5 separate regions of the Homo sapiens genome follow, and regions 1, 3, 4 and 5 are each linked to region 2. The links come from fine-mapping of genetic effects on gene expression. A gene starts in region 2. Each other region holds a variant in brackets. All regions are shown on one strand. Distances are between the middles of the regions.

The links.
Region 1: its variant is fine-mapped to the expression of MYH7B in thyroid (GTEx, PIP 0.98).
Region 3: its variant is fine-mapped to the expression of MYH7B in esophagus mucosa (GTEx, PIP 0.96).
Region 4: its variant is fine-mapped to the expression of MYH7B in stomach (GTEx, PIP 0.99).
Region 5: its variant is fine-mapped to the expression of MYH7B in tibial artery (GTEx, PIP 0.97).

The regions. Positions count from the first base shown.
Region 1 is chr20:34,482,323-34,488,104 of GRCh38, reverse strand. The region is part of intron 20 of ITCH (itchy E3 ubiquitin protein ligase); the gene reads right to left. Among named protein-coding and RNA genes, the nearest start is that of MIR644A, 19 kb to the right of the region's middle. The variant GAAC/C (reference allele first, on the strand shown) is at 2,409.
Region 2 is chr20:34,953,247-34,959,028 of GRCh38, reverse strand. It overlaps MYH7B (myosin heavy chain 7B), which reads right to left and starts at 3,161. Exons shown (of 45, transcript NM_020884.7): 1 at 3,022-3,161; 2 at 817-931. GSS (glutathione synthetase) reads left to right here and starts at 3,223. Exons shown (of 13, transcript NM_000178.4): 1 at 3,223-3,302. RefSeq lists enhancers at 2,896-3,075, 3,316-3,415.
Region 3 is chr20:34,983,037-34,988,818 of GRCh38, reverse strand. MYH7B (myosin heavy chain 7B) reads right to left here. Exons shown (of 45, transcript NM_020884.7): 11 at 4,104-4,127; 12 at 3,873-3,965; 13 at 3,690-3,753; 14 at 2,621-2,719; 15 at 1,830-1,933; 16 at 1,532-1,670; 17 at 1,144-1,262; 18 at 905-1,054; 19 at 557-727. Among named protein-coding and RNA genes, the nearest start is that of MIR499A, 4.4 kb to the left of the region's middle. RefSeq lists enhancers at 2,004-2,555, 2,556-3,107, 4,210-4,761. The variant G/A (reference allele first, on the strand shown) is at 3,643.
Region 4 is chr20:33,988,994-33,994,775 of GRCh38, reverse strand. RALY (RALY heterogeneous nuclear ribonucleoprotein) reads right to left here and starts at 865. Exons shown (of 10, transcript NM_016732.3): 1 at 645-865. It overlaps RALY-AS1 (RALY antisense RNA 1), which reads left to right and starts at 409. Exons shown (of 2, transcript NR_109886.1): 1 at 409-571; 2 at 1,871-2,288. RefSeq lists silencers at 145-474, 695-744, 805-934, 1,115-1,224, 1,395-1,644 and enhancers at 1,422-1,948, 1,885-1,964. The variant A/G (reference allele first, on the strand shown) is at 2,641.
Region 5 is chr20:35,092,415-35,098,196 of GRCh38, reverse strand. TRPC4AP (transient receptor potential cation channel subfamily C member 4 associated protein) reads left to right here and starts at 5,390. Exons shown (of 19, transcript NM_015638.3): 1 at 5,390-5,583. The coding sequence starts at 5,416. RefSeq lists silencers at 1,726-1,855, 5,489-5,618. The variant G/A (reference allele first, on the strand shown) is at 3,094.

The DNA.
Region 1 (5,782 bases), 470 kb after region 2:
TAAATATAAGATTATTTTTGAAAATAGTTAAAAATTAAAGCAAGAATAACAGTAACAAAGTATTATATTTGTGACACGTAGAAATAATATATGACAACAACACCACAAAGAGCTGGAGTGAGGTAAATGGAATTATATTATTATGAGCTTCTTTTCTTTTTTTTTGAGACGAAGTCTCGCTCTTGTCCCCTAGGCTGAAGCGCAATGGCGTGATCTCGACTTACTGCAACCTCCGCCACCTGGGTTCAAGCGATTCTCATGCCTCAGCCTCCCAAGTAGCTGGGATTACAGGTGCCTGCCACCATGCCTAGTTGATTTTTGTATTTTTAGTAGAGACGGGGTTTCATCATGTTGGCCAGGCTGGTCTCGAACTCCTGACCTCAGGCAATCTGCCCACCTCAGCCTCCCAAAGTGCTGGAATTACAGGTGTGAGCCACCGCACCTGGCCTATGAGCTTCTTATATTGTACAAGAAGTAGTGTTTGGGTCAACAGGGATGTTAAAGATGCATATTATCATAATCATTAGAGTTGCCACTAAAGTTAAACAAAGAGGTATAGCTAAAAAACCAACAGAAGAGCTAAAAAAGAAAGTAAAAATTGCTTTATTCAAAGAAGGCAAGAAAGAACAAAGAAAGTTGGGAAAAATAAGAAACAAATAGCAAGGCGAGACAAATAGCAAAACAAATAGCAATGGTTAGACAAAAGTCCAACCAAATCAGTAATAAAATTAAACATAAATGTACTGAACACTCCAATTATAAAGTAGAGATTATCAGGATAAAAATAAGACCTGGCTGGGCACGGCGGCTCATGCCTGTAATCCCAGCACTTCGGGAGGCTGAGGTGAGGGGATCACGAGGTCAGGAGATTGAGACTTTCCTGGCTAACACGGTGAAACCCTGTCTCTACTAAAAATACAAAAAAATTAGCCAGGTGTGGTGGCAGGCGCCTGTAGTCCCAGCTACTCCGGAGGCTGAGGCAGGAGAATGACGTGAACCCAGGGAGCGGAGCTTAGAGTGAGCCAAGATGGCACCACTGCACTCCAGCCTGGGTGACAGAGAGACTACGTCTCAAAAAAAAAAAAAAAAAAACCTAACAAATACTTTTAAATACAATGAGAGTGGCTGGATGTGGTGGCTGACATCTGTAATCCCAGCACTTTGGGAGGCTGAGGTGGGTGGATCCCTTGAGCACAGGAGTTCAAGACCAGCCTGGGCAACACGGTGAAACCCCATCTCGTCATGTGGGTGTGGTGGCACATGCCTGTAGTCCCAGCTGCTTGGTGGCTGAGGCTAGAGGATCGCTTGAACTTCTGGAATTGGACGCTGCCGTGAGGCAAGATTTCACCACTGCACTCCAGCCTGGGTGACAAAGTGAGACCCTGTCTCAAAAATATTAATAATAAAAATAAAACATAATAAATAAATAAATAAATAAAATAAATAAAATAGTGAAAAACACAACATTCCAAAATTTGTGGCTGGGCGTGGTGGCTCATGCCTGTAATCCAGGCACTTTGGGACGCTGAGGCAGGCGGATCACCTGAGGTCAAGAGTTCAAGACAAGCCCGGCCAACATGGCAAAACCCCGTCTCTACTAAAAATACAAAAATTAGCCAGGCGTGGTGGCGGGTGCCTATAATCCCAGCTGCTCGGGAGGCTGAGGCAGAAGAATCACTTGAACCCAGGAGATGGAAGTTGCAGTGAGCCAAGATTGTACCGCTGCACTCCAGCCTGGGCGACAGAGCAAGACTCTGTCTCGGGGGAAAAAAAAAAAAAGGTGTGGACTGGATGCGGCGGCTCATGCCTATAATTCCAGCACTTTGGGAGACCAAAGTGGGAGTATCGTTTGGATCCAGGAGTTTGGAGACCAGCCTGGGTAACATAGTAAGACCCATCTCCTACAATAAATAAATAAATAAGTAAGCCAGGCATGGTAGTACATGCCTGTGGTTCCAGCTACCTGGAAGGCTGAGGTGGGAGGCTATCTGGAGCTCAGGAGGTTGAGGCTACAGTGAACCATGACTCTACCACTACGCTCCAACCTGGGCAACCTCAGAGTGAGACTCTATCTCAAAAAAAACAACAAAAAATTGTGGGATATAGCTAAAGAAATACTTAGTTGGAAATATGCAGCTTTAAATCCTTATATTAGAAAACAGAATGTGGGAGGATAGCTTAAGGCAAGGAGTCTGAGACCAGCCTGTGCAAAATAGCAAGACCACATCTCTACAAAAATAAAAACAACCAAAAAATTTGCTGGGCACAGTGGCTTGTGCCTACAGTCCCAGCTACTCAGAAGGATGAGGCAGGGGGATCCTTTGATCCCAGGAGTTTAAGACTGCAGTGAGCTCTGATCGTGCCACTGTATTTCAGCCTCGGCAACAGAGCAAGACTCCGTCAAAGAA[GAAC/C]GAAATCTAGACGTATCGTAAGAAAAGGTAAGAAGAGGGAGGGAAGAAGGGAAAGAGAAGAGTTTCTAAAATCAATGATCTGAAATATTTAAGAACTCCAACAATCACAAATAAAAAGACAACCCAATTTTAGAATGGATAAAAGATTTGGATACACACATCACAAAAGAAGAGCTACAAATGATCAATATGCATAGAAAAACGTACTTGACACCATTAGTCAAGGAAGAAATGGAAATTAAAACCACGAGATATTACTGACAATGCTGAATTGGCAAGAACGTGAAGCAACTCTCAAATACTACTAGTAGGACTGCAAAATGGCAAAAACACTTTGGGAAACTGGCAGTTTCTAATAAAGTCAAACACCTTCCCAGCGATTTCACTCCTAGGTATTTACTCAAGAAAAATATGTCCACAAAAAGATATCACAAGAATGTTTATAGCAGCTTTACTCATAAAAGCCCCAGACTGAGAAACAACCAAAACATTTATCACCAAGAGAATGGATAAACAAATTTTGAGATATACACAGCATGGAATATTTCTCAGCAATAAAAAGGAATAAAATACTGATATAAACAATATGGCTGAATCTCACAAACACCAAATAAAAGAAAAAATCAGACACTAAAAGCTAGATATAAGAGTACATACTCTATGATTTCATTTTAGGAAGTTTAAGATCAGAAACAGTTATAGAAATAGAACTAAACAGAAATGGTTACCTACCTCTGGGGCTGGGAGAAGGGAGGTGTGCATTGGCCCCTTATGGGGTCCAGAATAGAAAAAAAAGTTCCACAATTTGGGTCATATTTACATGGACATGATGCTATATGGAACAGTGTTTACAGAATTGGTAATTAAATGAGTGATCTAGCACAACTTCTCTCCATAAAATGCTCACATTTGGGCTGATATATATATTTGTCAAATTTCAACTTCTACACTTAAGATCAGTGCATTTTATTCTAAGGAAATTATACTTCTTAAAATAATACTAAAAACCCCCCAAACTCTGAAATTTTAAGCAAGCCATTATTGAAGTAGATACTAAAAACCTTTTTAGCTGCCCATTATCTTAAAATGTTATCTTACCAGCAACAAAACTATTGAGAAACGTAGTACATCTCTTGGAATCTCGAAACATTACCTCTCTGGAATGCTATATATGTCATAAGAAAATCTAGACATATCATAACAAAAAAACTGGAGAATTGACAAAAACGAATTGACTACATTTTAAAAGCAGATTTCAAAATAAACTTTTAAAAGGATAGATTGTTGTCCAAGAAATAATGACAGCTCACTGTGTTAAATAGTATACTTTCAATTATGGAGGGAAAAACCAGGCAAGAAATGCAGAACCTGGAACTTAAGAAGTAAATATGCAAAATTTAACCCTGGCTGGAAAGAATTGCTATTGAGAAGGTATGAATGAACTATTAGCTCTTGAGACTAGTAGCATGAACCAATGGAAATAATCAGAAAGGATATACTATAAAACATCATTTTAGTTATAAATTTTACCCAACCTTATGATATAGTTTGGCTCTGTGTCCCCACCCAAATCACATCTTGTAGCTCCCATAATTCCTATGTGTTATGGGAGAGAACCAGTGGGAGATAACTGAATCATGGGGGCGGGCCTTTCTCATGTTGTTCTCATTATAGTGAATAAGTCTCACAAGATCTGATGGTTTTAAAATGGGAGTTTCCCAGCACAAGCTCTCTCTTTGCCGGCTGCCATTCATGTAAGACATGCCTTGCTCCTCCTTGCCTTCCACCATGATTGTGAGGCCTCCCCAGCCATGTGGAACTGTAAGTCCATTAAACCTCTTTCTTTTGTAAATTGTCCACTCTCAAGTATGTCTTAGCAGCAGTGTGAAAACAGTAAATTGTTACCAGGAGTGGGGTGCTGCTGAAGATAACTGAAAATGTGGATGCAACTTTAGAACTGGGTAACAGGCAGACGTTGGAACAGTTTGGAGGGCTCAGAAGAAGACAGGAAAATGTGGGAAAGTTTGGAACTTCCTATAGACTTGTTGAATGGCTTTGACCAAAATGCTGACAGCAATATGGACAATAAAGTCCAGGCTGAGGTGTTCTCAGATGGAAATGAGAAACTTTTTGGGAAATGCAGCAAAGGTGACTCTTTGTATGTTTTAGCAAAGAGACTGGCAGCATTTTGCCCCTGTGCTAGAGACTGGTGGATTTGTACTTGAGAGAGACGATTGTACTTGAGAGAGATGATTTAGGGTATCTGGTGGAATAAATTTCTACGTAGCAAAGCATTCAAGAGGAGACTTGCGTGCTGTTAAAGGCATTCAGTTTTGTAAGGGAAGCAGAGCATAAAAGTTTGGAAAATTTGCAGCCCAACAATGCAATAGACAAGAAAATCTCATTTTCTGAGGAGAAATTCAAGCTGGCTACAGAAATTTGCATAAGTAATGAGGACCCGAATGTTAATCCCCAAGACAATGTGGAAAATGTCTACAGGGCACGTCAGAGGTCTTCATGGAAGCCCCTCCTATCACAAGCCTGTAGGCAGGCCTAGGAGCTAAAAATGGTTTCATGGGCCGGGCCCAGGGTCCCCACGCTGTGTGCACTCTAGGGACTTGGTGCCCTGTTTCCTAGCTGCTCCAGCATGACTAAAAGTGGCCAAGGTACAGCCCGGGTTGTTGCTTCAGAAGGTGGAAGCCCCAGGAGTTGGCAGCTTCCACGTGCTGTTGAGCCTGAGGGTGCACAGAAGGCAAAAATTGAGGCTTGGGAACCTCCCTCTAGATTTCAGAAGACGTATGGAAATGCCTAGATGCCCAGGCAAAAGTCTGCTTGCAGGGGCAGGGCACTCACAGAGAACCTCTGCTAGGTCAGTGTGGAGGGGAAATGTGAAGTTGGAGGCCCATACAGAGTCCCTACTGGGGCACTGCCTAGTGGAGCTGTGAGAAGAGGGCAACCGTCCTCTAGACCCCAGAATGGTAGATCCACCAACAGCTTGCAGCATGAGACTGGAAAAGCCATAGACACTCAACGCCAGCCCATGAAAGCAGCCGGTGGGGGGCTATACCCTGCAAAGCCCCAAGGGCAGTGTTGCCCAAGGCCATGGGAGGCCACCTCTTACATCAGGGTGACTTGCATATGAGACATGGAGTCAAAAGAGATCATTTTGGAACTTGAAGATTTGACTGCCCTGCTGGATTTCAAACTTGCATGGGGCCTGTAGCTCCTTTGTTTTGGCCAATTTCTCCCATCTTGAATGGCTGTATTTACCCAATGCCTGTATCCCTGAGTGTATGTAGGAAGTAACTAAGTTGCTTTTAATTTTACAGGCTCATAGGCGGAAGGGACTTCCCTTGTCCCAGATGAGACTT
Region 2 (5,782 bases):
AATTTGTGAGAAGTACTTGAAACATCCTCAGCTTTCATTAAATGTTGGTTTCCTTCTCTTTCTCTCTCCCCAAACTATTTCCATCAGTTAGCAAATATTATTGAGCATCTGCCACGTGGCAGGCACCAGTCAGGTCCTGGGGGTAAAGTGGTGAACAAGACAGACATGGCCCATTTTCATGGGGCTCACATTCTAGCAGAGGGAAACAGCAAACAAATAAAAGCAACAATTTCAGATATGAATAACTGCTATGAAGAAAATACAAGGCCGGGCACGGTGGCTCACGCCTGTAATCCCAGCACTTTGAGAGGCAGAGGCGGACGGATCACAAGGTCAGGAGTTTGAGACCAGCCTGATCAACATGGTGAAACCCTGTCTCTCCTAAAAATACAAAAATTAGCCGGGCATGGTGGCACGTGCCTGTAATCCCAGCTACTCAGGAGACTGAGGCAGGAGAATTGTTTGAACCCAGGAGACAGAGGTTGCAGTGAGCCAAGATCGCACCACTGCACTCCAGCCTGGGCAACAGAGTGAGACTCCATCTCAAAAAAAAGAAAAGGATAACGTGATAGACTTATAGGGTGGGGCAGCCTCCAGGGATGAAACATCTGAATGACCAAAGGAGCCAGTCATGCCAGGATTTTGGAGGAAAGCACCCAGGCAGAGAGTGCAGAAAGGGCAAACGCTCCCTGGAAAGATTCTTAGTCAAGAGTCCTTCACTCCCAGTCCTACCACAAACTGGGTCACCTTGAACAAGTCACGTAACTTCTGAGGCTCAGCTGCCACATCTACAAAATGGGAATAAAGACATCTTACCTGCCACATTGTGAGAGGTTTCAACCAAAGGGCTGTTAAGGTCTGGGATCCTCCCCAAATCTCACCATAGACACCTGATACTCATCACTTGGCACCCGTCTTGGAAGAGGGGAACCTGCACAGAGAACCCTGGGTCATGCTTTTGATTTTTAATTTCATGCTGCACTAGAAATAGCTTCTTTTGTTCCTGGTTGACCCAGGAGCCTCTTCCTGCCACCTGGGGCCTATTCTAGTTAACAGCTGCTTATCCCCTCAGGTACAAAAGCCAACGAGGAAAGGACATCAGGAAACATTGTTCTGGGAATAACCAGACACCTATCTGCCACCATCTCCCCCCATCCCGTGACCACACACGGGAGACTGGAGGACTCAGCCTGTCCTGTAGTCAGATAATGTACATGGTTTATTTAAAGAGTCAAAAGGGGCCGGGCGCAGTGGCTAACGCCTGTAATCCTAGCACTCTGGGAGGCTGGGGCGGGTGGATCACCTGAGCTCAAGAGTTTCAGACCAATCTGGCCAACATGGTGAAACCCTGTCTCTACCAAAAATACAAAAATTAGCCGGGTGTGGTGGTGGACGCCTGTAATCCCAGCTACTTGGGAGGCTGAGGCAGGAGAATTGCTTGAACCTGGGAAGTGGAGGTTGCAGTGAGCTGAGATCGTGCCACTGCACTCCAGCCTGGGCAACAACAACGAAAACTCCGTCTCAAAAAAAAAAAAAAAAAAAAAGAGTCAAAAGGATCTTGGTCCCTGGGTTGGGCCACTGATTTACGATCACTAGGAGTTCTCACTCCTAAATTTCTTTGATCTGTTCGCTTCGCTCCATCTCCACAGCTGCTGCACTGGCTACAGCCTCATGATCTCACATCTTAACTCTCTCTGCTTTCTCTGGCCCATCTCCCCACTTCCAAACCATTTGTCACGCTGTAACCAGTGCCTAACACACAAAACTAACCATGTCCTTCCCCTGCTTAAAGCCCTTAGCTCCTGTTGCTCAGTGGAACTGGCGTCTGAGGCTACCTCTCCAAGCCTAAGCGCCTAAGTCCTGTTGCAACCCTCAGGCCCTTCCTCATTATCCACACCAAACTCCTCAGTGTCTGTAAAACAAGCCGAGCAACCCTCAGAATTATATGCCTTCGCTGCTCGTTTGTTTTGTTTTTAGGACAGGGTCTCACGCTGTCACCCAGGCAGGAGTGCTGCAGCGTGATCTCAGCTCACAGCAGCCTCCGTCTCCGGGGCTCAAGAATTCTCACGCCGCAGCCTCCCGAGTAGCTGGGATTACAGGCACGGGCCAACACACCCGGCTAATTCTTGTATTTCTAGTAGAGACGGGGTTTCGCCATGTTGCCCAGCCTGGTCTCCAACTCCTGAGCTCAAGTAATCCACCTGCCTCGGCCTCTCAAAGTGCTGGGATTACAGGTCTGAGCCACTGCACCCAGCCAGCCTTTGCTGCTTTTGTTCCTGCAATTTGGAACACTGTCCCCATCCCAGCCTCTCACCTCTACCCCTACCTCCTTCACTACCTATACCTTCCTATCCATCCTTCAAGACCCCAAAAACCATCCCTGATTCCTTCAGAAAGGCAGTTTATTGCCTATCTTATCAGACTGAAAGCAGTGGCTGTGTCTTATTTATGGTTAATTCCCTAGAAGCTGGACTGATACATTCCATTTAACTAAAATTCGTATCAGGTGCTTCGGACTGCAGACAAGCCTATCACAACCCAGAAGGAAGAAACAGGGAAGGCACCTGGGGGCTGCCAAGCAATGAGGTGGGGGGTAGGAATCATGAATCCGCATATTTTTAAAAACTGCCCCAGATCCTGATGTAAACGGTACAAGAGAGTCTGAGAAACACAGGGCTCCCCTCAAACAGTCCTGACTTCAGCATTCCTGGAAAAATGAAAATCCTTTCCTTTTGCCTCTAATGCTTTCCCTGCTGGTATCCCAGGTTAAAAAAAAATAGATAAAATCAGGGGGATTTTTCTGGGACTTGGCTGGGCTGGGAAACAAGCCTGGGTTCTAATACAGGCTCAGCCCCTGACGTACTATGGGCCCCTGCCCCTCCTTGGGGCCTCCATTACCACGGCCACCCCCACCCTTATCAATTGTGTGCCCCTGAGGTAGTGACTGTCCCGCTCTGAGCATTAGTTTCCCCATCTTCCACTAGTCGTCGTCAGCTCTGACGCTCTATGAGCTATGCATACCCGTAGCTCCCCGCCGACCCCGATGGTCCCCTCCCCTCCTTCCCAAGGTCCATCCGCCAGGGTGCAGCCGACGCACTCCTAATGCTAAGGCCGCCCTCTCATCGACCGCCCCTTCCTGGCCTCGACTCAGCGCCAAAGGTATGGGTCTCTGCCCCGCCTGCTCTTTAAGCCTAGCCGGGGCGGTCAGCGCAAGCGCACTGGGTCGCATCGAGGCCCCGCCCCCTGAGCCTGGGTAGCGGCGCGAGGGCCGGGAGAACCGTTCGCGGAGGAAAGGCGAACTAGTAGGTTGGGGCGGCCACGGCGGCCGGCATGGGTCACGTTTCCTCGGGAGGAACGATGTGAGGGAGGGGTCTGGCAAGAGATTGGAATTCCGGAGGCCGGGAGACCTTGTGGCTGAAACCCTTCGTAGGAGCGGGGCAACTAGTGTCTAGTGAGGGGGTTGGGCTGGCGCGCACTGATCCCAGACTTTCCGGATCTTCTGCCTTTAGATCGGGCCGGTGTCGGGGCATGTAGGCCAGTGAGACTGGAGCCAGTTAGAGCTACAACGGGGAGCGATTAGGGCCAAACTTTGTCCAGGGTGGAAGCGAGCGGGCCCGTGAAGTGGGGCCAGCCTGGGCAGCCGACCGTGTCGTTGCCTCGGGGCCTTTCCAGGCACTGGCCTAAGTCCTGGCGATAAAGTGCGACCGATTTCCTTGTGGGCGTTTTGAGGCTTTCGGTGATCTGACCCGTCTGTCATTCATTCTTCATTCATTCATGTGATGAATGAATACAGTACTAAGCGCGGCTAATTACTAGGTAGAGAAGTGATCAAGACAAACACTGTTCCTACGGTACAGGGAAAAGTGATGGGCTGTAGAATGTAGAAGCCCGGGGCGGAGAACAGGGACAGCTTCCGGAACGAAATCGCGAGCCCAGATCAGGAGTGGTGGCGAGAGTTCCAAAGAGAAGACAGCACGTGCCAAGTCCTGGAAGGGGGACAGAGGCCAACATATCCTGGTCACTGAAGACACCTGACTCTGAATCTGTTTCACGCCCAGGGAAGAGATGACAGTGGCCGGGGCTAGGCTACAAACTCTGGAAATGGAGATAAATAAAGGAATTCAAAGTACTATATACTTAGGCAGCAAAATCCATAGGATTTGGGGAGAGTGAGATGTAGGAAACAAGTACTCAAGGCTTGGGTACCTGGGTGGGGTTCATCAGAGAAGAAGCAGATTTGTGGGAGACAACAACAAATTCTATTCTGGTTGTATGGAGACTCGCAGGAAAAAATTGGATATTCTAGTTTGAAGGTAGGAAAGTATTGCTGTGAAGATGTAGATTTGAATGTCATCAGCAAAACATAAATAAAGCCAAGGGAGGGTTGAGGCTGTAGAATGAGAAAAACAAAGGGCCCACTTAGCACCTTCATCTGATTTCTTTTCTTTCTTTCTTTTTTTCTTTTTTTTTTTTTTTGACAGAGCTTTGCTCTTGTTGCCCAGGCTGGAGTGCAATGGCACGATCTCGGCTCACTACAACCTCCACCTCCTGGGTTCAAGCTATTCTCCTGCCTCAGCCTCCCAAGTAGCTCGGATTACAGGCATGCGCCACCAGGCCCGGCTAATTTTGTATTTTTAGTAGAGATGGGGTTTCTCCATGTTGGTGAGGCTGGTCTCGAACTCCCGACCTCGGGTGATCCGCCTGCCTCGGCCTCACAAAGTGCTGGGATTACACGAGTGAGCCACCACACCTGGCCCATGGTGATTATCTTTATGTCTTATCCTCCTCCATATCCCCAGTACCTAGTCAAGGGAGTGGCATTAAATGCAAATCAGTGTTTGCCAACTAAATAAAAGCCCAACAGCAAACAGATGTTGGAATTTCAGAGTTGTGGAACGATGGGGGCTCATGGAGGGTTTCATTACTCTAATGTCAAGGTAATGGGTTCTTGTCCTGGCTCTGCCACTAGGCTTCTGTGTGACCTCTGACAAGTCTCCTCCTACCTATAAAGAGAGTACAGCCAAAAAATGGTCTCATGTATAGAGCTTCAAACACTGCTGATAAATTTCACACTGATTTTTCTCTTTTAATCCACACAGCAATCTTACTTGAAAGGGAAGTCGGCTGGGCGGGGTGGCTCACGCCTGTAATCCCAGCACTTTGGGAGGCCGAGAGTGGGGGATCACGAGATCGAGACCATCCTGGCTAACACGGTGAAACCCCGTCTCTACTAAAAATACAAAAAATTAGCCGGGCATGGTGGCAGGTGCCTGTAGTCCCAGCTACTCGGGAGGCTGAGGCAGGAGAATGGCATGAACCCAGGAGGCGGAGCTTGCAGTGAGCCGAGATCGTGCGGCTGCACTCCAGCCTGGGCGACAGAGCCAGACTCCGTCAAAAAAAAAAAAAAAGAAAGAAAGAGGGAGGGAGAGAGAGAGAAAGAAAGAAAAAGAAGGAAGGAAGGAAGGAAAGAAGGAGGGAAGGGAAAGGGAAAGGGAAAAGGAAGGAAGGAAAGAAGGGAAAGGGAGAAGTCGTATTATTATGGACTCAAACCCAGGTCTGTCTGTCTGTCTGACTTGAACCTTGTTCTTTACTATGATTGCCCTCATGTATGTCTCACTCAACAGGGATATTATCAGGACCCTCTTGAGATCACATGCGCATTCTTTCAAAGCATTGTGCTGAGGCTGGCAGACTTTCATAATTGGCCTGGCACTGGCTCTGTCATGGGGACAGGGGGACAGAGCTGAATGTGATGGAGGTTTCCTATTATTCTCTAACTCCC
Region 3 (5,782 bases), 30 kb before region 2:
AAAAAAAAAAAAGGGATAAAGGATTTCGAGGAAATGAACCTAAGTGTCATGTGACTGGCTGTGATAGGAATGGGGAGAAACATTTTTTCCCCTGCCAATTTTTCAAATTTTCTTTCTTCCATTCTTTGTACAATGGGTAAATATACATAATGTTCCACAATCACAAAAACAAGGAAACACACCCTGCCCTGCACCCAGGGCAGTTCTAGGGATCCAGTGAAATTGTGGCTGCAAATAGGGCCTTGTGAGCTGCAGAATTCTGAGCACCCAGGAGGAGCTGTTGTCCACAGTACTGGGATGCATGCATTCACACTGCTCACACACTCACCAAGGCTCACTCATGGTCAACTCCAACACACCCACTCACACACGTGCCCTTTCACACACAAGCACATAAACGCTGTCACAACTACACTCACATGCATGCTTACTGCAACGCACAGTCACACGCTTCCATGCACACTTGCAGGCTTCCATGCAAGCCATGGTCATCCATCCCTGCTTGCTCACCACACACACCCTCCCTTCCTCAAAGTGACCTTGCCGCGGCACCCACCTTCTCGATGAGGTCGATGCAAGGCTGCAGGTCAAGGCCGAAGTCGATGAAGACCCAGTCGATGCCCTCCCGCTTGTACTCCTCCTGCTCCAGCACAAACATGTGCTGGTTGAAGAACTGCTGCAATTTCTCATTGGTGAAGTTGATGCACAGCTGTTCGAAGCTGTTGAACTACAAGAGGGAGGGGCCTGGCTCAGCAGACCTCTCGCAGATGGGGAAAGGGAGGCCCGGGGAGGGGCATGAGTTCACCCCCAACTTCCAGGCAGAAGGCCAGGGCTTCTGCCCCCCCACAGGCCCATGTCCTCTACCTTGGAGAGAACAGAGGCCAAGGTGAGGGCCTGTCCTCACCTCAAAGATCTCAAACCCAGCGATGTCCAGAACCCCGATGAAGAACTGCCGGGGCAGCTTTGTGTCCAGGGTCTGGTTGATCCGAGACACCAGCCACCTGAACAGCCGGTCATAGGTGGCCTTGGCCAGAGCCCCCACAGCAAACACCACCTGGAGGTGCAGGGAGGCTGGGCTGGGACCTGGCAAGGAGGGGACCCTGCCCGGCTGTCCCCCATGGGTTTGGCCTGCAGGCAGCTCACCTGCTCCACACTCTGGCCCTTGGTCACGTACTCGTTCCCTACACGCACCCGGGGGTGCAAAAGGCCTTTGAGGAGGTCCCCACTGCTGACCCCCATCAGGTAGGCAGCCTTGTCAGCACCTGGCAGGGCACGAGTGGGGTAAGGGAGGAGGACACCACCATGCGCACTCAGGGGCTCTACTGCCTCAGCCTGGGGCTAGGAGAGGGAAGTTAAGAGGGGTCAAGTTCAGGGCTAGCAAACAAAGCCTCAGGAGGGTAAGGGTTTGGAGCTGAGGAGGCAGGGCCAGGTAAGACTGAGGTTAAAGGTTGTGGACAAGAGTTGGGGTTAACCATCATGGACAGGATGCTGAGGTCTGGGTCAAGTTGAAGGCCAGGTTAGGGCCCCTCACTCTCAGTGCCATCGGCCTCCGCCTGCTCCTCCCGCTGCTTCTGCTTGAACTTCATGTTGCCAAAGTGCAGGAGGGCGCCCACGATCTTATAGCAGGCACATTTCTCATCCACGCTGAAGCCTAGGATGTCCATGGCATGCTGGGGGGCAGCAGGGAAAGCGAGTTCAGAGAGGTCTGGGCTCCTCCAGGGTCCAGCCAGGCACTGCCCCGGGACCATTCATGCAGCTGGGGGCACCGGCAGTGCTGCCCGATTCCACCACAGGCGTCCACACAGCTCCCCTCCCACCAGAGCTCATACGTCGGTGGCGATGAGCTCCTCCCCATCATTCATGTTGTCCACGGTGATGACGCCCTGGCTGCAGAAGTGGTAGTCATAGGGGTTCATAGACAGAAGCAGCATGTCTGGGGACACAGGGCAGAGAAGGGAGGGTCAGGCAGTGCTTACCGGCTATTCTCCCCACAACAATTGCAGCATAGGGGGTCCTGCGGGGGCAAGCCCAGCAGGAGTCTAGGGCCCTCCCAGAGGACCTCATCTCCCAGTCTGGGGCCTAAGTTTCTCATCCTCACTCCTGCCAAGGCTGAGGGCACTGAGAGTGAAGGGCCCTGACCTGGCCTTCACTTTGACCCTGGCTTCTTTTTCTGGTTCTCTGAGGAATGAGCCACAGTCCTCACGTCTCACTCATCTTTTGACTGTTGCTCATGGCCCCCTCTGGCCCAGATCCCATGCTAGATGCTGGCGCACAGGGAAGACCAGACTCTGCCCTCAACGGGCTTGCCAGAGAGGAGAGCTGGGCCTAGACAGTCATCAGTCCGCCTTGGTGCTGGGTGGGACCTCTCTAGTCTCAGGACAGCAAGTGGGGTTTAGGGCTTAGGCTCCTGGAGGCAGCGATAACACGTTGGCAGGTTGCTGGAGCTAAGAGGACTGTTCCCTAGCAGGAAAGTAACCAAAAGTCCCAAGAAGGAAGAGAGGCCACAGACCCCAGGACAGGGAGGGAAAGACCACCAGGGCCTGGCCTGATGGGGGCCAGGAAGCGCCAGGCAGCCCCTCCAGGTTCTGACTCCCACCCCCTTCATCGTACTGCCCCTCACCCTGCAGCTCTGGCTTCCTCCCTGAGAGGATCTGGTAGTAGACATGGTAGCTGCGCTCACCAGGCAACTGGAAGATCACCCGCGACTTCTCCAGGAGATCTGGGGAGAAGGGACGCTGGCCTGCCATCTCCCACACCTCCCCAGAGTGGACATCCCAAGGGGGCGATGCGGAGGGAGAGAGGTGGGCAGGGAGTGTGCAGGGGGGCTGCATCTGCACCTGCCAGCTTGTGTGGGGAGGGTATCTCCCCTGTGCCTGCGTCATCACACGAGCCGTGTGTCTGTACCTGTGTGTCTGTGTCTCTGGCCAGATGGGTCAGTGTGTGTCCTTGCGTGTGTGTGGGGTGAGTGTGGTGTCTGCGTGTGCAGGTTTTTATCTGTTGGTGTGTCAGCGTGTGTGCGTGTGTGGCCGAGCCTCCGTGTGTGTCTGTGTGTGTCTGTGTAGGGGTCAGGGTGTGAATTACAGCCTATCCCTGTCCCCGTCACTGCCTGCCTGCGCTCATCCGTCAAGACCTAGCCATGCAGCCCAATGTGGGGAGTGGCCAACGTGGGGGCCCCTCTGTGTCCCTGGCCCCCTTGAGTGTGGCCTAGGCGCCTGGGGTCTATGCAGCTGGTGGTACTGGGGCACTTCCCAGCGGGGTGCCTGGAAGGATGGGGCACTCTACGTGTAGCTGTGCAGCTGGGGCAGGAGGGCCGTGGGCCAGGCCTGCCCTCTTGGTGGCCAGAGAGAAGACTGGGGACACGCTAGGGGTGCAGTCACAGGAGCCTGACTGGCCAAATGAGGATTTGGGTCTCCATCCTCAGGTGACAGGATCTAGAGAAAGCTTTCAAGCAGGAACAGGATATGACCAGCAAAACTATGGCCGCGTAGAGGAGAGGAAGCTGGAGACCAGGCAGAGGCTGGGGTGATGTTCTGGTGATAGGTGAGGTGGCCTGAGCTGGGCAGCAGCCAGGGGGTAGAGAGAAGTGCCCAGAGCAGGCAGGAGCCCAGAAGTCGTGATGACAGAGGCCGAGTTGGGGTGACC[G/A]GGCTCAGGCCTCCTTCCCCTGCACCGCCCGCAGGGGGTTGACTCACAGCTGTCAATATCCGCGGATGCCAGCTTCCCAGAGGGACCAAAGTGAATGCGGATGAACTTGCCCTGTGGGCAGAGGGGCAGCCCTCAGCCAAGGGGCACAGCCAGCACTGTCCCCACCTGTGCCCGACCTGCCGCTGGTGGCCTACGGCATCCCCGCCACCCCTCCCACCTCAGCCACTCACAAAGCGGGAGGAGTTATCATTCCTCAGGGTCTTGGCGTTGCCAAAGGCCTCCATGGCAGGGTTGGCCTCGATGATTTGATCCTCAAGGGTGCCCTGGGGCGGTGGGGGTGAGGGGGTCTGTCAGTTCTGGTGCCTACCCACCGGGAGGCCAGAGCCACCCGTGGCCCCTCTGTTGTGCAGAGGAAGGGGGTACCCCCAGGGCTGCCCCATTGACATTGGCCCCATACTCACCCCCGTCTTTGTTGCCAGAAATTGCTGGGGGAAGAAGACAGACAACATTAGAGGGCCAGGCCTCCGGTGGGGAAGGGCGGGGTGGGGCAGGGTATCAGCGGGAGGCAGCGGGCAGCAGGACAGGGGGGTGGAGTTAGTCACCGGAATGCATGGCCCCCACCCTCAGCCCCTCGGCCTGACCCTCCTGCAGCTGTTAGGAGGCAAAATGCTGGAAAGTGGGAGTGGCACAGCCCCAGCCAGAGTCTCCACCTGCAGCCTCCTCTGCCCCAGCCCGGCCTCTGGCCTCCCTTCATTTTCTAGTCTCCATGCAGTGGCCCTGCTCCAAGCCCCAGGGGCCTCCCGACTAAAATCTAGGGCCCTCCAGAGCCCAGCCCAAGTGCCCCCTCCTCTAGGAAGGCCTCCTGGCTGCTCCAAAGCTGGAATAGACCTCTTCCTGGTCTGAACCTTCCTGCCCTAACCTCCCACTATGACCTTACACACCTCTCCTTTGTAATGCAACTGGGTGTGTCTTCATTGTTTGTCTGCCTGTATACCTACCAGTGCGCACAAAGGCCCTGCCAGGTGCCCATTATTAGCCCTAATTTGCAAATGAGGAGACTTAGCTCTGGGCAGGGAGTGGATCTGCTCAAGGCCACACAGCAAGTCAGGAGCGGCAGGGCAGGTGCCCAGCATCCTGCCGCCTGGACGCCACAGCGGTCCTGTGTGTCACCCAGGGGGACTAAGTGAATTGAGCAGATCCTCCTTCTCCCCATCCTAGCCTCATCCTCACTTTCCCTTCCTTTTCCTTTCCTTCTCTTCCCTACTCCGGATGCTGGGAGCCAAGGAAGAAAGGGAGAGAAGGGAAGGAATGGATTCTGGAGGGAACAGATATACCACCACGGACTTTGTGGTCATTCATTCACCTCCAGGGAGCCCAAGAGTTAAAATACCCACAGGGACATTGGGCAGGGGAGGTGGAACCCCCCAATACACTCCCATCCAGTGCTTTTGTGCAGGGCTCTCTCTAGCCCGTTTGGCCAAATTTGGGGCCAAGGTAAGGGGAGCTGATCAATCTTTTAAGTTCCTGCAGCCATGGCTCCTGCGGGCAGCCTCTCCCACCCCTCCCTTGCCCGACCCTCTCCCCTGGGCTCCACTGTCCCAGCTCCTTTCTGCCCAGGTGCTCCTCTGCCCTTCCAGCTGTGTCCCTGCCAGCTCTGGCCTCTCCCTGACATCTCTTCCTGTCACTTGACCCACCCAACTTTCTGTTACGTCCCCAGAGACCTTTTTAGGGATTTGGAAGACAGGGCAGGAAAGGGAAGGAGGAAAAAGGACCAAAAAGTCAACAGCAAAAACAAAACAAAACAAAACTGAAATGAAAATCAAAAATCAAGACAATCAAATGGGTAAAAAGGAAAAGGCAAAAAAAAAAAAAAAAAAAGAAAAGAAAAGAAAAGAAAGAAAAAAGAAAGAGAAAAGAAAGAAAGAAAGAAAACAGGGGAAAAACAAGAAAAACACCCAGAATAAAGCAAGGCTTAACAGGACCAGGAGCAGGGACTGGGTGGGGAGGGAGGCCTCGGGCTTCTGGAAAAAGGCAGCCCATCTAGGGGTAGCCACAGGGCTCTGAACAACTGGCCCCAAGGCTAGGGATGAAATGTTATGCCTTAAAAACAAAAACAAAAAAACTTGGCCCCATTGTTTCA
Region 4 (5,782 bases), 960 kb after region 2:
CGCAAAGCGAGTTTCCTTCTTTCCCCCCATGTCACCGAGAGGCAAACTAAGACTCGGCCGCCAAGGAGGCTGAGTGAAACGCGGATACGGCCCCAGTTCGAGGGCCCGTTGTTGTTTCTCTCCGAGCCCAAGGCGTGCAAAGAGCCCAGAAGAGGCGGGAGCCGAGGCAGGACAAGCTCTGCGCGCCTCCGGGAGCCCGTAGACCCAGTCCGGGTTAGGAGAGCCGGAAGCAGCCGCGGCCGGGCCCGCCTGCGGCCTCCCCGGAGCAGCCTCCGTTCCCCTCCCTCCGCCCCTCGCCGGGCGGGGCGGGGCACGAGCACAAAAGACTCCAACTTCCGAGCGGGCGCGGGCCCACCCAGCCAACTACTGGCCCAGACTTGGCCCGCGGAGAGAGCAGACAGGGAACGCCGGGAGCAGGACCGGGCGCGGAGGGCTGGGGCCGGGGACCCGGGGCGGCGGGTCCGAGTGGGAGAAAGGAGCGGCGGAGGGGGCCTAGAGTTACTCGGGCTCCCGGGACTCCCCGAAGGGCAGAAATAAGTTTCTAAAAATAGGCAGCGGCCTGCCGGAAGAAGTGAGTGAACGGAAAGGCACAAAGCACACACCCTCCCCGCACCCCTAAGGAGACGCCCGCAGTCCCCACTCACCCGCGCCGAGAGGTCTGGAGGAAGCCGCGCGGCTGGGAAGGAGGCGGTACTGCCGCACTCGGGGACGTAAGGGAGGGAGGAAAAGGGCGGCTGCGGCGGGAAGAGGCTGGGCACACGCGCGGGAGTCGTCGTCGTCGCCGTCGCCGCCGCTACCGCCCCCTCAGCTTCTCTGGGTTCCGCTGCCCCGAGCTGGCGCCGCTCGCGCGCCCCGCCGCACTGACAGCGGCGCGAGCCCCGCAACCGCGAGCCCTGCCCTCGGCCGGCACCACTGAGGCGCGCGGGGGTGGGGGCACCCGGAGCGGCTCCCCGCAGCTCGGCTCCGCCCGCCGCTCCGGCCCTGGTTCCGGGCTCTCCTCCTTCTCTGTCTCCTGGGAAGGACACGGTGACACGAGCACGAGGAGTCTGCAGCCCCGCCCAGAAACAGCCCGGCTTCCCAGGCGCATGGGCTCTCCCCACCCTCTCAGCCTGGCTTTGGAAAGGTCCAGAGCTTCGGCGGGGACGGGAGGAAGGCGGGGCCAGGGTGGGGCCTGAAAGGGAGGAGGGACTGAGACGCGGCTTGGGGAGGCGGGGCTGGGGCGGGAAGAGGGCAGCTTGCACAGGTTTGGAGCCGAAGTAGGGGCGGAGCTAAGATGGTGATGAGGCCCTGGGAAGAGGGTCGCCGGACCAGTGGGGAAGGCCGTGCAGGAGATGGAGAGCCGGGAACCAGGACAGCGCTTGAAAGGAGATGCTGTGGGCGGGGCTAAATGGAGAATCGCCCAGAGGGCGGAGCCACGGGTGGAGGGAGGCGGGGCTGAAGAGAAGCTTAGAGTGGGAGGAAGATGGAAGCGGGCCTGAAGGAGGCGGGCCCGGAAGCAGGGAGGGGAGGAGGGGCCCCGGGGGTGGCTACTCTGGGCGGGTGCCGGAAGGAGGCGTGCCCCAAGGAAGGACTGAGGGGTGGTGCTTGAGGTGGGCGGGGCCTGGAGATGGCGCTCAAATCTGCAGGCTGTGGGCGGTGCAGGAGGGATCCGGAAGAGACGAGGCAGGAAGAAACTCCTGGTCCTTTCGCTTTTAAGGAACGTGCCACCTAGACAAGGTGAGGGTCGCTCTTCGCTGCCTAATCTGGGACTGGGCGGAGAGGCCGCGCTAAGGGTGATCTCCGAAAAAGATGCAGGAGATGTTTTATAACTTGATCCAGGTGCTAGTCCTCTCTCCTACACATTTCTCCTGTCGGGATTTCTCACTTTCAGTGTTCCAGCCTCCGGTGAACCAGTCTTCCTAGTGAGAGCACGAGAAGCCCGTTGTCCTTCATTCCTCAGCTATGGATTTCCCTGAAAGTTGAGAACTGACCATATTCTCGATGCCTCCTCCGACCTGTGATTTCATGACTCACATCGCTTCCCCAGAACCTGCTTAACAGACGGGATTCCTGAGAATGGAGCAGAGTTTGAATTCAGAGTCCTGGCTTTGCCATACCAGCAGTTATAATTGTCCTTCTGTTGTTTGATGACCTCCCTGCCCTGCTTCAAAAGGAAGAGAAATCAAAGAGTTGACGACCCTGAGCGCAAGGCCTGGGACGTTCTTCCCCAAACTCGCTTTAATATCACCTTCTCAAAAGAACTCTTCCCTGAACACCTTGTCTCAAGATGTTCTCTAGTTTGTCTTCTTGTTCTGTCATTTATTTGTCTGTTCATTGTTTGTGTGTTTTTTGAGGCGGAGTCTAGCTCTGTCGCCTAGGCTGGAGTGCAGTGGCACGATCTCGGCTCTCTGCAACCTCTGCCTCCTGGGTTCAAAGCGATTCTTGTACCTCAGCCTCCCAAGTAGCTGGGATTACAGGCGTGTACCACCATGCCCGGCTAATTTTTGTATTTTCAGTGGATACGGGGTTTCATCATGTTGGCCAAGCTGGGCTCTAACTCCTGACCTCAGGGGATCTGCATTTGAGGATAAACCCTGTCTTGGCTCCTCCCTGACGGGGGTGAGAAGTAGCCCTCCTGGAATTGCCTCAAAGCCCCCGGTT[A/G]TCACCAGTGTTCTCGGTTGCAAATTACGAAACATAAATAAACTCAGACTAACAGATGCAGCAAAGGAATTTATCAGGAAGGAATGGGGAGCTCCCAGAACTGATGGGAAGGCTGGAGAACCAGGCTCAGAAAATGCACTGAAGTGGTGAGCGCAGAGGCTTGAATGTTGCCAGGACTCTCCTCCCAGTCCTTTATCTCTTCTCTCTGTATGCGAGCTTTTCTCCTCAAGGCTAGGCACCTGGCTGCAGCAGCGCTCACCACTCACAACTCTCACCCGTTCCACCGGAGAGAGACTGAGGATTTCTGCTTCTGGTCTGAAGGACAAAATTTTAGGGAAAAACTTTGATTGGTCCAACATAGGTAAGTCCCCGTCCCTAGACCAATCATCTATGGGTGGAAAACCAGGTGCTGTGACTGGCCCAACTTAAGCCAGGTGCCATTCTCTAACCAATACTGTGAATAAGGAAGTGGGACGTACAGGGAGATGGCAGCCCCATCGGAACCATATGGTCAGAGAAAGATGCATTTCCCAAAAGATGGAGTTCATGCTCTGGGGCAGATTGAATAATAGATTTTCACTACACCTGCCCCAGAGTTACCCCCAACCAATACATTACTTACTGCCCAACTCTCATCATTCCTTCTCTGCTCAAAACCCTTCAATGGGCTGGGCGCGGTAACTCACGCCTGTAATCCCAGTACTTTGGGAGACCGAGGTGGGGGGGATTACTTGAGGTCAGGAGTTCAAGACCGGCCTGGGCAACATGGTGAAACCCCATCTCTACTAAAAATATAAAAATTAACCGGGCGTGGTGGCAGGCACCTGTAATCCCAGCTACTCAGGAGGCTGAGGTGGGGTAATCGCTTGAACCTGGGAGGTGGAGGTTGCAGTGAGCCGAGATCATGCCACTGCACTCCAGCCTGAGACACAGAGAGAGACTCCGCCTCAAAAACAGAAAAACAAAAAACAACCTTCAATAGCCTCCCATTGCCATGTCATCAGCATGGATCAAAAACTCAAATGTCATGCCGGGCACAGTGGCTCATTCCTTTAATCCCAGAATTCTGGGAGGCTGAGGCAGGAGGATTGCTTGAACCCAGGAGTTTGAGACCAGCTTGGGCAACATAGTGAGACCCTGTCTCTACAAAAAAAAAAATTTTAATTAGCTGGCATGGTAGCATGTGCCTGTACTTCCAGCTACTTGGGAGGCTGAGGCCAGAGGATCACTTGAGCCCAGGAGGCCAAGGCTACAGTGAGACATGCTCACACCACTGCATCCAGCCTAGGCAACAGAGTGAGACCCTTCTCAAAACAAATAACAACAACAGCAAACCCTCAGGTGTCTACAGGGGCTAGAAAGAAGGTTAGGCATGAGACAATAGGGAGTGGAGAGCACTGTCATGAACTGGAGGATGTGTGTTGCATACTGTTCCTAGAATGCAGGTGCTGAGATGTAGGATTCTTCAAGAGAGCCCCCAAATCTGGATTTTCATATAAAATCTCCCAATTTCTAAATGTTGGCTCAACTATTTTTAAAAACCCTGTGCAAGCCAAATGAATTATGTCTGCAGGCCAATTACTGTAGGCTGTGGTCTAAAAATGAGCAATCTCTGACCTTTATAGGATAAAGCCTATAATCACACACCCACCTTTGGGGTCTGTCATCTATTACTACGTAAGAAATCATCCCGAAAATGTAGTGACTTAAAACAACAATGATTTGTTACTTCTCACAATTTTATAGAATGACCAGGTGGTTCTTCTGCTCCATGTGGTGTTGGCTGGGAAAAGCTTCCTCCTGTCTCCACCTCCACATGTTCTATTTCCTTTTCAAGCCCAACTGCCAATGGCGCCTCCACCCTGAAGCCTGCCTCATCTCCTGTGCCACACACATTGCCACTGGCCAAGTCTAAATGAGATGCCGTGCTCTCCAAGCTTTGTTGCTCTTTATGTATAACTATTAGAGCACACATTTAGCTCACCTAGAGAATGGAGGTCTGCCTTGTCCATCTTTATTTCCTTCTGGCACAGTCACACAGGAAAGCCCCATGGGTGCTGTCAGATTGGATTGAACTGAGCTGACTCTTGGAGATATTTAGTCAAACTTGCCCATTTTACAGATGGAGAAATGACAACTGGAGAGGGGAGTTCTACTGGAGAGGGGAGTTCACACATATACACTGAAAGCTGCCCATCAAAAGAGTTGCAGAACCAGGACTACAGCCCTTGCATCTTGACTGCCAGTACGATGCAGGTTAAACTCTGTGTTTGATGCTTGTTGATGTGGACGTCTGGAACTTGAATAGAAGACATTTCTTATTTCAGATGCATCCATTAGCAGGTCTTAGCCAGGAGCCAGGCCCTTGCAAGTATATATTGCAAGTAATTGATGACATTGGAGCCAGAAATCGAATGAACCGGGCCCAGTTCAATCCACTTACTGGACAAGCTCCTCAAGCACTCTAAGCCCCAATTTCCTCCTCTGTAAAGTGGGCATAAATTACATTTACCTTGAGGGTTGCTGTGAAGGCTAGAAATAATATATGTAATGTCCCCTGATACACAGAAGGTGCTCAAGAAATAGTAAGCTCTTCTAATGATTGTTATTGATGGCAAAGATGATGAAAAAACAAATGCTCTGACTTCTCAAAGGAGAGAGAATCATCCCTGAGGATTGTGTCTTGGAGAACATAAATCCATATTTTCTCTTTCCTGAACAAATTCCCTCTGGAAGGGCACAAAGGGAACAAATTCCCTTGTTAGGAAGGAAGGAAGGGAAGGAAGGATGGAAAACAAGAGCAAGGAAGGGTTGGCAGGTTGTGACTGTCTACCTCTCCCTGAGGCTTGCTCTGCTACACCCACCCCAAACTCTGGTCCATCCCATTTCCATGCTGAGATCAGGCCACACACAGAAGTGTTGGTGTCAGACCACCAGCTTTGAGCCATCCCTGGGAATCCCCAGGATACTGGATAGCAGATTTGGAGCATACAGTTCCCACCCACTGTGACTGACGGCTAGGGAGCTCAAGGTTATGGAGGAAGCTCTCATAAGTCAATGCAAGTTTGTGTGTCTCCCGTTCCTCACTGGCTTAGCCCTCAGAGCCCTTGTCCCTGCTTTCTGCCTTGCAACTAGGTCTTCA
Region 5 (5,782 bases), 140 kb before region 2:
TAAAATATGCAGGTGAAGTGTCATAATATCTACAATTTACTTTCAAATGGTTTAGCAAAAAATGGCTTAGCAGGATGGGTGCAGTGGCTCACATCTGTAATCCCAACACTTTGAGAGGCTGAGATGGGAGGATCCCTTGAGCCCAGGAGCCCAAGGCTACAGTGAGCTATGATCGTGCCACTGCACTCCAGCCTGGGCAACAGAGCGAGACCCTGTCTAAAAAAAAAAAAATGTTTAGCAAAACTAACACAAACCCTCTCTACGTATAAATGAAGTATAGAGAGAGATACATATATGGAAAGAGCTGTATATATACATATATGTATATATACATATATGTATGTGTATATATGTATATATACACATATATATGTATGTATATGTATATATACACATATGTACGTATATGTATATATGTGTATGTATATATACACATATGTATATATGTATATATACACATATATGTATATATGTATATAGGCACACATGTATATATGTATATAGGCACACGTGTATATATGTATATATACACACGTGTGTATATGTATATATACACACGTGTGTATATGTATATATACACACGTGTGTATATGTATATATACACACGTGTGTATATGTATATATACACACGTGTGTACATATGTATATATACACACGTGTGTACATATGTATATATACACACGTGTGTACATATGTATATATACACACGTGTGTACATATGTATATATACACACGTGTGTACATATGTATATATACACACGTGTGTACATATGTATATATACACACGTGTGTACATATGTATATGTATATACACACGTGTGTATATATGTATATGTATATACACACGTGTGTATATATGTATATGTATATATACACGTGTGTATATATGTATATGTATATATACACATATATGTACATATGTGTATATATGTATATGTATATATACACATATATGTACATATATGTGTATATATACACAGAGAGAAAGATAAAATATAGTTTTAGTAGCTGACAAGTCTAAGCAAAGGGTATATGAGTGTTAATGGTGTATCTTTTAACTTTCTGTAGATTTGAAAAACTTCCCCAAAAATGCTGCGAGAATAATAAGATAGTGCAAAGAAAGTGCTTGGCCAATGGTAAGTGCTCAATAAAGGGTAGATCTTACCCAGAAGTATAAGCCCCATGAGGGCAGGAAATTTTGTTTATTTTATTTAGCACAATATCCACAGCACCTATAACAGTGCCTGGCACATAAGATAGTACTTAACAAACATTTAAAAGACAAATCATGGAGAGGTTGTACATTAGAAATGTAATGTAAAAAAAAATCACTGTAAAAAATGACACCACAGGACAATGCATAGTTGCATGGGACAGCTGTTACCATGGCCTGATATAACAGTGCCAGTTGCTTTGATTAAAGTGACTTCTTGGCAGGGTGCCATGACTCATGCCTGTAATCCCAGCACTTTGGGAGGCTGAAGCGGGAGGATTGCTTGAGCCCAGGAGCTTGGCGGCTGCAGTGAGCTATAATCACACCACTGTACTCCAGGCTGGGCCACAGAGCAAGACTTCAAAAAAAAAAAAAAAAAAAAAAGTCCCAGAAAATCTGTCTGCCCAATTGAGATGAGTTTGGCGATTTATTTACAAGAGTTAATGTTCTCTGAATAGCATCATCATGTTTGGTTAAGCCATTTGGGATTACGGTGGAAAAAAAATTAGCCAGTTTGGGAGCTTCATTTTTTTTCTAGTGCTGATTAAAATTGACATCAACAGACCTCTGGTGGGAGAGGTACTTCGCCCTCTGGTGGTGAGAGACACTCAGCTTTTTTTTTTTTTTTTTGAGACAGAGTCTTGCTCTGTGGCCCAGGCTGGAGTGCAGTGGCGCGATCTCGGCTCACTGCAAACTCCGCCTCCCGGGTTCAAGCAATTCTCCTGCCTCAGCCTCCAGGGCAGCTGGGACTACAGGCGCGCTTCACCCCGCCCAGCTAATTTTTGTGTTTTTGGTAGAGACGGGGTTTCACCATATTGACCAGGCTGGTCTCGAACTCCTGACCTCGTGATCTGCCCGCCTCGGCCTCCAAAAGTGCTGGGATTACAGGCCTGAGCCACCGCGCCTAGCCTCAGCTAGTTTCTACGGAAAAGGCTGGCAGAGCAGAGGTGAAGTGGAAAAGAGTGTCTTTCCACAGAGGTTTCTGGAAACATGTCCCCTTACTTCATGGTCACATGGTATCTGTAAGGACTGAATTTGAGGTTGTCATTTTTGACCCAGTGAATACCCAGCTTTGGTGAATGCCTGGGCCAGGCTAGACTGACAAAGATAGGAACTGAGGAATGGAAAGTGACATTTGCAGTTGGGTCAAAGCTGAGGTGGGAAGATTTGTCCCTAGCATGATGAGTGCCAAGGGAAACCTGGAGGGCCATGTGAACTGTGAAATTAGTCAGGATCCTGTCTCCTCACCGCGACAAGGGTGAGAATATCCATCACCATATGCCTCAGGAAGAGCTCTGGGTGGAATCCCTGGGCTGTGGATTCCCTGGTAAGGCTGGCTGCTGCCCGGACAGCTCACCAATGCCCTGTTTGTATCCCTGGAAATGCCTTTTCTTTTTATGTCTTTTTAAAGTTAATTTCACATATTAGAAGACTTTTTTTTCTTGAATCTAGAAATGATACATAGCTGGTGCAAAAAGTTATGAAAAGTATTGTTATTGAACCAAAGTGAGGGCTGCTTACCTGGTGCAGCAAAGCCACTGACATTGGGATTACAGCAAGAGAAAGTGAGGCATTTATTATTGCACTTGCTGCAGGGTGCCAAGCGAGGAGAATCAAACAGCTTATGCTTAAGACCTGAACTCCCTTATGGCTTACAGGGGTTTTATTTTATTTTTTTGAGACAGAGTCTTGCTCTGTCGCCCAGGCTGGAGTGCAGTGGTGCAATCTCAGCTCACTGCAACCTCTGCCTCCTGGGTTCAAGCGATTCTCCTGCCTCAGCTTCCCGAGTAGCTGGGATTACAGGCACGTGCCACCATGCCTGGCTAATTTTTGTATCTTTAGTAGAGACGGGGTTTTGCCGTTTTGGTCAGGCTGGTCTC[G/A]AACTCCTGACCTCAGGTGATCCACCTGCCTCGGCCACCCAAAGTGCTGGGATTATAGGTGTGAGCCACCGCGCCCAGCCGGCTTACAGGTTTTTAATGGCAGGAGGGCAGAGGCCACAGGCGAAGTCATAAATCAATACATAGGGGCTGTATATTGGTTCCACCTAAAAAGACAGGACATCTCCAACCAGGGGCCCACAAGTGGATTCAAAGATTTTCTGACTTGTAATTGGTTAAGGAGGTAAAGCTTTGTCTAAAAATTTGGGATCTGCAGAAAAGAATGTTAGCTCTGACTTATGGTCGTGTCCTCCTCCAGGCCCCCTAGGAAGAAATTTATAACAAAAAATAGAAGTCAAAGTTTAGTTCTCAGCTCTCCCTTATCTGAGTTTGCCTATCAGCAGATCCATTTGGTGGGGGTTCGAGTTTCTAAGAAACAACACTCAGGGACAAATTTTAAGATGTTATATTCAGTTTCTATAGGGAACAAAATATCTCCTGACTGTAACTTCTTTGGCTATTTTTTTTTTTTTTTCTGAGATGGAGTCTCATCCTGTCATCAAACTGGAGTGCAGTGGCGTGATCTCGGCTCACTGTGACCTCTGTCTCCAGGGTTCAAGTGATTCTCCTGCCTCAGCCTCCCAAGTAGCTGGGACTACAGGTGCATGCCACCACGCCCAGCTAATTTTTGCATTTTTAGTAGAGATGGGGTTTCACCATGTTGGCCAGGCTGGTCTCGAACTCCTGACCTCATGATCTGACTACCTCGGCCTCCCAAAGTGCTGGGATTACAGGTGTGAGCCACTGGGATTACAGGTGTGAGCCACTGCACCCGGCTGAGTTTATTTTTGTATAATGTGAGAGATGAGGATCCAGTTTCATTCTTCTGCATGTGGCTTGCCAGTTATCACCAGCTGTTGAATAGGGTGTCCTTTCCCCACTTTATGTTTTTGTTTGCTTTATCGAAGATCAGTTGGCTATAAGTATTTGGTTTTATACTGTGTTCTCTATTCTGTTCCATTGGTCTATGTGCCTATTTTTATACCAGTACCATGCTGTTTGGGTGACTATGGCCTTATTGTATAGATTGAAGTCAGGTAATGTGATGCCTCCAGATTTATTCTTTTTGCTTAGTCTTGCTTTGGACATGCAGGCTCTTTTTTGGTTCCATATGATTTTTAGGATTCTTTTTTCTAGTTCTATGAAGATGGATGGTGAGTCTACTCCTTTTAGATGGGGTGTGAGGATGGTAACCATAGTGCCAGTTCACCTGGGAGAGTCACTTTTATGCCTACCGTCCCGGTGTAATTATTTATTGTGTCTTTTCATTCTTTAAAGTGTTCTGGTTTGAGCAGTAAGTTACAGTCATCTTAGTTATGAGTCACAATCTTCACCATTCCCTGTTACATCACACTTAGCTCTCCTCTTTCATTTTTATTACAGGCCCCCTGCTAGGAAGGGAAAAAGTGTGTGTGTGTTGGGTGGGGGGAGTCAGTGCCATCCTGCCACAGAAGTTAGCTGAAAAAATGAGTATTAGAGACAACATGCTATCTGGTGGATAGAAATTAGGACAGGGTTTTCATCTGACAGAGAATATGATGTCACAATTTACTAATCCCTTTCCCTTCCATTATTTAATTTCACAACAACCTACCCAGTTACACAACTTATCCAGTTTGAGACTGCGTTTCTTTGTGTATGGATCTGCTGTCTTCCCCTGTAACCTGCATTTCGTGATAAAGGATCCCAGGCCGTTCTGCTCACCACTGTATCCCAGACACCCTCCCTTTCCCCTAGACATGGTTTGGTGTCGGGCGCAGAGAAAGCCCCAGGAACTACGATTGATCAGGCTCCCAGAATCTATAGATGGAGTGACCTGACGAGGACACAGGCGCAGTGGCAGAGCGCGATGACTTGGTCGATGTCCGCGGTGAGTCACGTGTAGAGAGAAGCAGGCAGGAAGCGGACTCGAGGGCCTGACTCCTGACCTGAAGCCCAGGATCATTTCTTGGCCAGCTGCCTGCATCCTGCCCAAATCGGCGAGAGAAATGGGAGAATGTGGACCTTGGGAGATTTCGCCGAAATGCTGGGCCCGGGGGCCAGAGAAACCGGCAGTGCAGGAAAGGCCACATCTCTTTTCCCACCTACCCCGCTGCCGCGCAGGACTACAATTCCCAGTAGCCTCCACGCCGCACACGGTCCCTGCCACGCGGCTTGCGCCTCCGCCGACGGCCCACTGGGGGCGCTGCGGCGACCCCTCCGCCGCCCCGTAGAAATCTCCGCGGCCCCGAGGCCGCTTGCTTCCTGTTTGTCCGACGAGGAGACATGGCGGCGGCGCCGGTAGCGGCTGGGTCTGGAGCCGGCCGAGGGAGACGGTCGGCAGCCACAGTGGCGGCTTGGGGCGGATGGGGCGGCCGGCCGCGGCCTGGTAACATTCTGCTGCAGCTGCGGCAGGGCCAGCTGACCGGCCGGGGCCTGGTCCGGGCGGTGCAGGTACGAGGCTGGACCAGGAGGGGCGGGGCGGGGCGGACCAGGCGGGAGCTGGCGGGGGGCCGGGGAAGAGGCCTTTCCAGGCCGCCGCTGGACGGGCCAAAGCCCTTTTGGCTGGCCGGAAGGCCTCCCTGTGAGCTGCCCGGACGCTCTCAGCTGCAGCGGGGCCGTGGGAAGCAGCTGGCTTGATGTCCCTTGTCAG